2 linked regions of the Homo sapiens genome follow. The protein of the gene in region 2 purifies or fractionates together with the protein of the main gene of each other region. This does not show direct contact. Each region holds a gene or a part of one and is shown on either strand. Other genes may lie near its edges.

Region 1 (3,813 bases), on a different chromosome or scaffold from region 2:
GAGGAGACAGGGTATCACTATGTTGCCCAGGCTGGTCTTAAACTCTTGGGCTCATGTGATCCTCCCAATTCAGCTCCCAAAGTGCTGGGACTTCAGGTGTGAGCCACCGTGGCCAGCCCCCACTAAACTATCTTGTAACAATTCCCACTATCCATATAGAACCCATAGGATTACATTATTAATAAATCCCAAATGCTTAGAAGGACTGTATTAGAATATCATCTCTAGGACGGGCACGGTGGCTCATGCCTGTAATCCCAGCACTTTGGGAGGTCGAGGCGGGTGGATCACAAGGTCAGGAGTTCAAGACCAGCCTGACCAACATGGTGAAACCCGTCTCTATAAAAATACAAAAATTAGCTGGGCGCATTGGCAGGCACCTGTAATCCCAGCTACTTGGGAGGCTGAGACAGGAGAATTGCTTGAACTTGGGGGGCAGAAATTGCAGTGAGCCAAGATCGTGCTACTGTACTCCAGCCTGGGCAACAGAGTAAGACTCCATCTCAAATAAAAGAAAAAAAAAGAATATCATCTCCAAATATAAGCGATTATCCTTTATCAAATTCATTCTGATAAGAAAACATTCTGTTACTCCAAAATAAATAACAATGACACTACTTTTCAAGTCATTTTGATTCTCCATTTCTCCGAATGCCAATATTAGGTGATACGAAGGCCACAGATGGGATACGAGTATGGGCCCCAAGCAAGCTGGACAGCCCAGAGGTATTGTAATGGCCCTCTTCCCCCAGCAGTAACCATCCAAACCCATTACATAGGCAAGGCCAATTCAGACTACCAATCCCTGGAAGTAACTGAGCACATGTCATTAGGTGAATACATTTTCAAAATTACTGTTGTGACAGTAACGTGTGGTAGGCGATTTCTACATAAATATCATCAAGACCCTCAGGATACACAAAAGCATTCTTAACCTAGCAGCATGTCACATTCCTGAACCTTAAAAAAAAAAAGATGATGTCAAGAATAGACATGAAATGGGAATTTATTTAAAATCAAAGTGCTTAGTTATATTTTCCCACAATTCAGAAACTTTCCATTATTTCTCCAGGACTCAGCTTGGGGCAGTTTTCCTGTGATCTTTGCAGTTAATAAATGTGCTGGCCTCAGTGACCACAAATAACCAGCAGAACCAAGAGAAACATATCTGAGTGCTTTCACTATAGCACAGGCACACAGGGAGTTTGTTTCAAGTGAAATAACCTCTGTGTGCTGCCTGGGGATGGGACCGGGGGTACCTGGACCAGACTCTCAGTGAGAAATGGCCCAGAGCTGAGAGATGGCAGCTTGTGGAACCAGGGCTGCCAGGGTTACCTAGAGCTTAGGTAGGGCTTGGAAGCAGTGAGAGACTTGGGGTCCTGCTCACCTGGGACCCTGGCTGTGGACTCCCTGCCTGGCTCTGCCCCCTGCCTCTACTCAGGGGAATGGGTGGGGGTGGGCATGAGCAACAGCAGCCCTCTCACTCCCACCCCACAGGACATCTTGCTGGGCTGATGGGAGCCAGAATGCTTGCAAAAGTTGGGGAAAGTCCCCTCCCCGTTTACCATCCAGATCTCTTCCAGGTTTAGGAGGCTAGGAGACAAATACAAAGCTACAGCCATCATCTGGTCTGCTCACACTGACGAGCTGCCTCTGTACTCCAGTGCTTGTCCCGTCCTGCCCTGGAATGGGAATGGGACTAGCACTGCCCATATCCTGACTATATCCTGTCCTGGGCATGGCTGGGCACAGCTTTCATGGGATCATTCCAGCCAATGAATGCACAGCCAGGGAGTACTTGAAAGGTACACCTGTTAACTGATCAATGTTGAAAGGGTGGCAGAGACAGCTCAGTAACCACATATGGGTTTCTGAATATTTAATTACTTAATTTTTAAAGATTAATTTAGAACTTAAAAAACATGTACCATTAAACACACAGCACCTCTTAGGAACTTGACGGAATGTAAAACAGATGTCTAAAGAACTGGGGACCAACACTTGAATGGATGTTGACACAAAAACTTGTATTTAGTTAAAAGTGACTCTCTTTTGATTTTTTTTGAAACGGAGTTTCACTCTTGTTGCCCAGGCTGGAGTGCAATGGCGCGATCTTGGCTCACCACAACCTCCGCCTCCCGGGTTCAAGCGATTCTCCTGCCTCAGCCTCCCGAGTAGCTGGGATTACAGGTGCCTGCCACCACGCCTGGCTAATTTTTGTATTTTTAGTAGAGACAGGGTTTCGCTATGTTGGCCAGGCTGGTCTCGAACTCCCAACCTCAGGTGATCCACCCGCCTCGGCCTCCCAAAGTGCTGGGATTACAGGTGTGAGCCACCGCGCCTGGCCTGATCTTTTAAGAGTTCAATTCTTGGACTTAATGTTGTGTCTGAAAAGGAGGATAAAATATATGAAGAATACACTGAATATAACACAATGGAATTATCTTATTTGCCAGTGTAGAAAGCAAATATCTTCACGTTTACCCTCAAAAAATCCTGAAAGACACCTGGAACCTCAGCAGCTGAGAGAGAGGGGCAGATTCCCACCTCCCAGGCTACCCTCGCTCCAGCAATGGATACTGGGTGGAGTAATGTGGAGAGTTTTCCTTCAGTATAGAAAACACCACTTGTTCTTCTCTCTCAGTCTCTCTTGTTTTTGTTTGGTTTGAGCTCCTATAGTTTAATGTGGTCAAATTAAGTAAGATTTTACTATGAGGAACTATGAAAATCTGTTAGAAGAACATGCATTGGACTTTGTACAGCTAGTTTTTGTTTTTTTTGTTTTTCCCTCCAAGTGAAACCTACAGCTAGGTCATTTAAAAGAATATTTAATTTAACTCTTGTATCGCTATAGATCTTTGTGTGCATATGAAATTAATCCGTATCAGAGACCTGTAACTTAAGAGAATCAGCTCCTACCATGCAAAGGTGTTTGAAGAAAGATACATGTTAGATGATGGCAAGGTGTAGAATTGTGTGGATGGTATTCTACCATTTGCCTTACACACACGCACGCATGCCCGCATACACACGCTCTCTTATACATGGAGAATCTCTCTGGAAGGATACACAAGTAACTGGTGCAACAGTAACTTGACTCTGGGAGAGGAACTGGGTGTCGGAGAAAGGAGGGAGGCTTTCCAGTTTCTGTCCTCTAATAACTTTTGAATTCTGTACTACATACATATATTAATCAAACTTAAATGCTTGTAACTGGGAAGAAAATAATAGAATAGTACTCAATTATTATTATTATTATTTTGAGATGGAGTTTTGCTCTTGTTGCCCAGGCTGGAGTGCAATGGCACAACCTCAGATCACTGCAATCCCCACCTCCTGGGTTCAAGCGATTCTCCTGCCTCAGCCTCCCGAGTAGCTGGGATTACAGGCATCTCCACCACCACGCCCAGTTAAAGTTTTGTATTTTAGTAGAGCGGTTTCATCATGTTGGCCAGGCTGGTCTCCAACTCCTGACCTGAGGTGATCCTCCCGCCTCGGCCTCCCAAAGTGCTGGGACTACAGGCATGAGCCACCGTGCTTGGCTGAGAATTATCCAAATACCTTAATGAGGCCTTTATGATATTTATGATACAGCCTTGACTGGCCTGATATAACTGGATGCAAACAATTTTAACAAAAAAGAAAATTATAAGCCCAGGAGCTGCTTGCATACCTCGTTTTGACTCTGTACCCCATGGCAACTATAAATACATGATTCCTGTGTCTGGGAAAGGTTTCTGCACATTGGATGACAAACAATATACATTTACAAAATCCAAATTCCTGCCCCTTCAAAATTCTGTTCCGTCTGCG
Region 2 (3,813 bases):
CAATGTGCCATGGGCCACTGCTGTAGCAGACATGACTAATCAACGCCTGCACTCTCCCTCTGAATCCCTCTTAACAGGTGGGAGAAGCACTATCTCAATGAATATCTACAAAACAGTGCCTGGGGAAGTACTGGCAGTGTTCCCATTTCGCAGATTAAAACAATCAAGACAGGCAGGCGGTGGACCTGGATTCAAACCTGGAAGCTCCATGGCCCTCCCCGCAGACCCAGTGCTCCAAACCTGAGATGTCCCCTGGCATGGAGACGCAGCGGCTCAGCAGAGGGGCCGAGGGGGTTTCCAGGGATGTGGGCTTCACAGGGTCCCCTGGGGGAGACACATGTTCAGGCTCCTGCCCCTCAGAGCCACTAGGAGGATTAGCAGGTTGGGAGATAAGGAGATGCTGGCGACTGATTAACTAGTTAAAGCAATTCCAATGGGCCCTTGGGGACGAGGCCACAGCTTCCTCGGTACCAGATAGGAGTCAGACCTGGGTACCCCGCTATGGAGTCCCTGTGGGGCTGGACAAGGTCAGGTTGACTCTATGCAGAACTGAAAAAGGGGCTGGCGGCTGAGACGGGGCTTCCTGGGAGATTGGGCTCGGCTGGCCTCGGGTCCCTGGGTACCTGTAGGTCCAGGCAGCGGGGCCCCGGTGGGATCGGGTGGCCGCCCTGGGGTCTCCCTGGGCTCGTCTGTAGCTGAGGTGCTGACCATTCTCTTGGAGCCCCGCACAGGGCTGGTGCGAGTTGGGAGGCCGGGGCTGGGGAACAGACGCAGGGGCTGGATCTCCTGGGGGCAGAGAACAGCTTGTGGCCTGTCCTGGGAGGGAGACCTCGCCCCCATCCCCCCTGTGCTCGCTCCCCGCCACCCACTCACGTGGCTGAAGAGCTCATTGGTCAGACCCAGGTAGTTGTGCAGTGCCAGGAAGGTGACTCGCTGCAGCCGCACCATGATGATCTGCAGGGCTCGAGGGGCGTGGCCATAAGATGGGGCGGGGTAAGGGGCAGGGCCAGATGGTGGGCCGGGCTAGTTCGCAGCATAAGGGGTCGGGCGGGAACCAGGGAGAGACCCACAGTCTGGGGAAATGGGGCGAGGCAGCTAAGGGAGGAGTCCGCGGCTGCAGACATCTGGCTGCTCCAGGCCGATAACCACAGCTCCAGCGCCTGCTGGCTGCTGGGCCTCGGTCCCTTGGAGCCTGGAATGGGTGGGGGCCAGGGTGGGGTCCCTCAGGGGGTGACAGGAGGCGAAGGCCCACTGACCTGCACGACCCGCACCAAGCTCTCCGGGTACTTGGTGAAGACCGCGGAGAATGCTTCCACCGGCAGGCGCAGCACCGTGGAGTCCCGGGCCGCCCGGGCAGACACGGTCCGCTGGGGATGCTGGTGACCCTGGGGGAGGGGAGGGCGTGAAGAGAGACAAGGGCAGAGGCTGCGAGTCCCCCTCGCTACTCCCCTAATCCTTCCTGGCGCCAGTCCCGTGAGGGGCCATCGGCAGCATAACGGATGAACCAGAGATTGGGGACCCTGTGATTTCCTTCAACCTAGTCCCTTGGGTGGGACCTTGCACCCCAGCCCCCCTGCCTCAGAAACTGGTCACTCACGGTGATGACATCCAGGATGCTGAGAAGGCTGTTGACGCTGTCCCCAGGAACCACTTCCTTCACCACACACTCCTTCCCGTCCTGAGACACAGGAGACCGTGGACCCTCAGTGGCCTCGCCCTGGTGACTGGCATGTCGCCCCCTCATCCATCCCAATGATCACTGACACTTCTCATCCCTTCTCAGGGGAACCCACCAACCCTTCCAACGAGCAGGCATCTCCCATCGTTCAATACTTGTAACTACTGAGCAACTACGCAGACTACCCCAAATGTCCTCGGTCACCCGTTCCCCTGACTCCCGATGACGCATCTCCAAAGACCACCAGCTCTACAGACCAATGCCTGCTGCCCATCCCCACCACCCATCCTCCTGCAGCAGCCCCTGGGGAGGCCCACTCACAGGCCCTGGCAGACAGAGCTCCAGCAGCCCGTCCTGCACCACGTAGATGCTGGCATCTGGCTGGCCCGGCCGGAAGACGTAGTCACCCTGGCCCAGCCGCTGGAAGACCATGTGGCGGCAGAGCTCCAGGAAGAGTGGCTTCTCGAAGTGGCCCAGCACCCTGTTGGACAGGCGGTGGGCGACAGAGGCTGGAGGTCAGGGCGGCCCCACGTCTGCAGCCCTCCACCCCCACCTGCACCCCAACACTGACCGGACGTTCTTGAGCATATAAAGCACTTCAGAGGGCAGATGGGAGTTAGCCAGGTCGCCCTCGGTCAGGTCAGCTTCTAGCACTGCGGGCGGGGGCTCCTTCCGCTGCAGCGTGGGCGTCTCTTTCTGGATGCGCAGGATCCTGGTGGGAGGGGAGGGGTGCCGGGGGTGAGGGGGGCACGGAGAAGGCTCAGGCAAACCTAAGACCCCCGCATACCCCTTTCCCCAGGGCTCATGTACAGCAAACTCTGGCCCGCTGGCCAAATCAGGCTGGCCACCTTTTTTTTTTTTTTTTTTTTTTTGAGACGAAGTTTTGCTCTTGTTTCCCAGGCTGGAGTGCAATGGTGCGATCTCGGCTCACTGCAACCTCCACCTCCAGGGTTCAAGCGATTCTCCTGCCTCAGCCTCCCTAGTAGCTGGGATTACAGGCATGTGCCACCACGCCCAGCTAATTTTGCATTTTTAGTAGAGATGGGGTTTCTCCATGTTGGGCAGGCTGGTCTCGAACTCCTGACCTCAGGTGATCCGCCCGACTCGGCCTCCCAAAGGCTGGGATTAAAGGTGTGAGCCACTGTGCCCTGCCTCAGGAGTCTCGCTCTTTTACCCAGGCTGGAGTGCAGTGGCGAAATCTCGGCCCACTGCAACCTCCACCTCCCAGGCTAAAGCGATTCTCCTGCCTCGGCCTCCCAAGTAGCTGGGACTACAGGTGGGTGCCACCACGCCCAGCTAATTTTTTGTATTTTTAGTAGAGATGAGGTTTCCCCATGTTGGCCAGGCTGGTCTCAAACTCCTGAACTCAAGTGATCCTCCCGCCTCAGCCTCCCAAAGTGCTAGGATTACAGGCGTGAGCCACTGCACCCGGCTGGCCACATTTATTTTGGTAAATAAAGTTTTATTGGTACAAAGCCACATTCATGTATTTGCATATCATTATGGCTGCTCCCATGCAGCAGAGTTGAAGAGTTGCAATGGGGACCATATGTGGCCAGCAAAGCCTGAAACATTTACTATCTGGCCCTTTATGGAAAAACCCTATGACCCCAGACCTAAAGTTCTCTGAGATGGCCCCTCCACTAGGCATAGGCCCCTGAGCTGAACCCTTTAGGAAGGCAGACCCCTGACATAGCTTCCAAGATAAGGGTAGGCCCAGAAATGGTACCTGTGTTTATCATGGGGGTCCTGAAACGGTCCTTCCAGTAGTCACAGAGTAGATTCCTGAGATAGTCCCCTTAACGTGAGTATGCCTTTGACATAGCTTCCAATATATGAGAAGACCGCAGATACAGTCTCTCTGTTCTACATAAACATTCCTGAGATAGACCTTCCTCCCAGTCTCAGAGAACCTTGAGACAGCCCCTCTGACAGCCACAGAGGTCCCTGAAGTAGCCCTCATTATAAGTGGAGAATCCAGATAGCCCCTCTGCTAATCGTGGACCTGGGAGAGCCCTTCCCCACAAGTCACAGTGATTGCTGAGAAAGACCCTCCGCTGGCAAAAGATCCCTGAGATAGACCTTGGAGGATGGGACCCTGAGTTAAACTCAGTGAAATCAAGAAATTCAGATAT

The links.
Region 1: the proteins of PNPLA6 (region 2) and HEATR3 purify together in Homo sapiens (co-immunoprecipitation; one large-scale study listed by IntAct). This does not show direct contact.

What each region holds. Positions count from the first base shown.
Region 1 is NC_000016.10:50,086,379-50,090,191, reverse strand, and holds part of HEATR3 (HEAT repeat-containing protein 3), read right to left. Parts: intron 1-3,813. UniProt on the Homo sapiens protein: Plays a role in ribosome biogenesis and in nuclear import of the 60S ribosomal protein L5/large ribosomal subunit protein uL18 (RPL5). Required for proper erythrocyte maturation.
Region 2 is NC_000019.10:7,538,495-7,542,307, reverse strand, and holds part of PNPLA6 (patatin-like phospholipase domain-containing protein 6), read right to left. Parts: intron 2,391-3,813; coding exon 2,250-2,390; intron 2,160-2,249; coding exon 2,000-2,159; intron 1,679-1,999; coding exon 1,598-1,678; intron 1,386-1,597; coding exon 1,257-1,385; intron 955-1,256; coding exon 874-954; intron 787-873; coding exon 624-786; intron 325-623; coding exon 241-324; intron 1-240. UniProt on the Homo sapiens protein: Phospholipase B that deacylates intracellular phosphatidylcholine (PtdCho), generating glycerophosphocholine (GroPtdCho). This deacylation occurs at both sn-2 and sn-1 positions of PtdCho.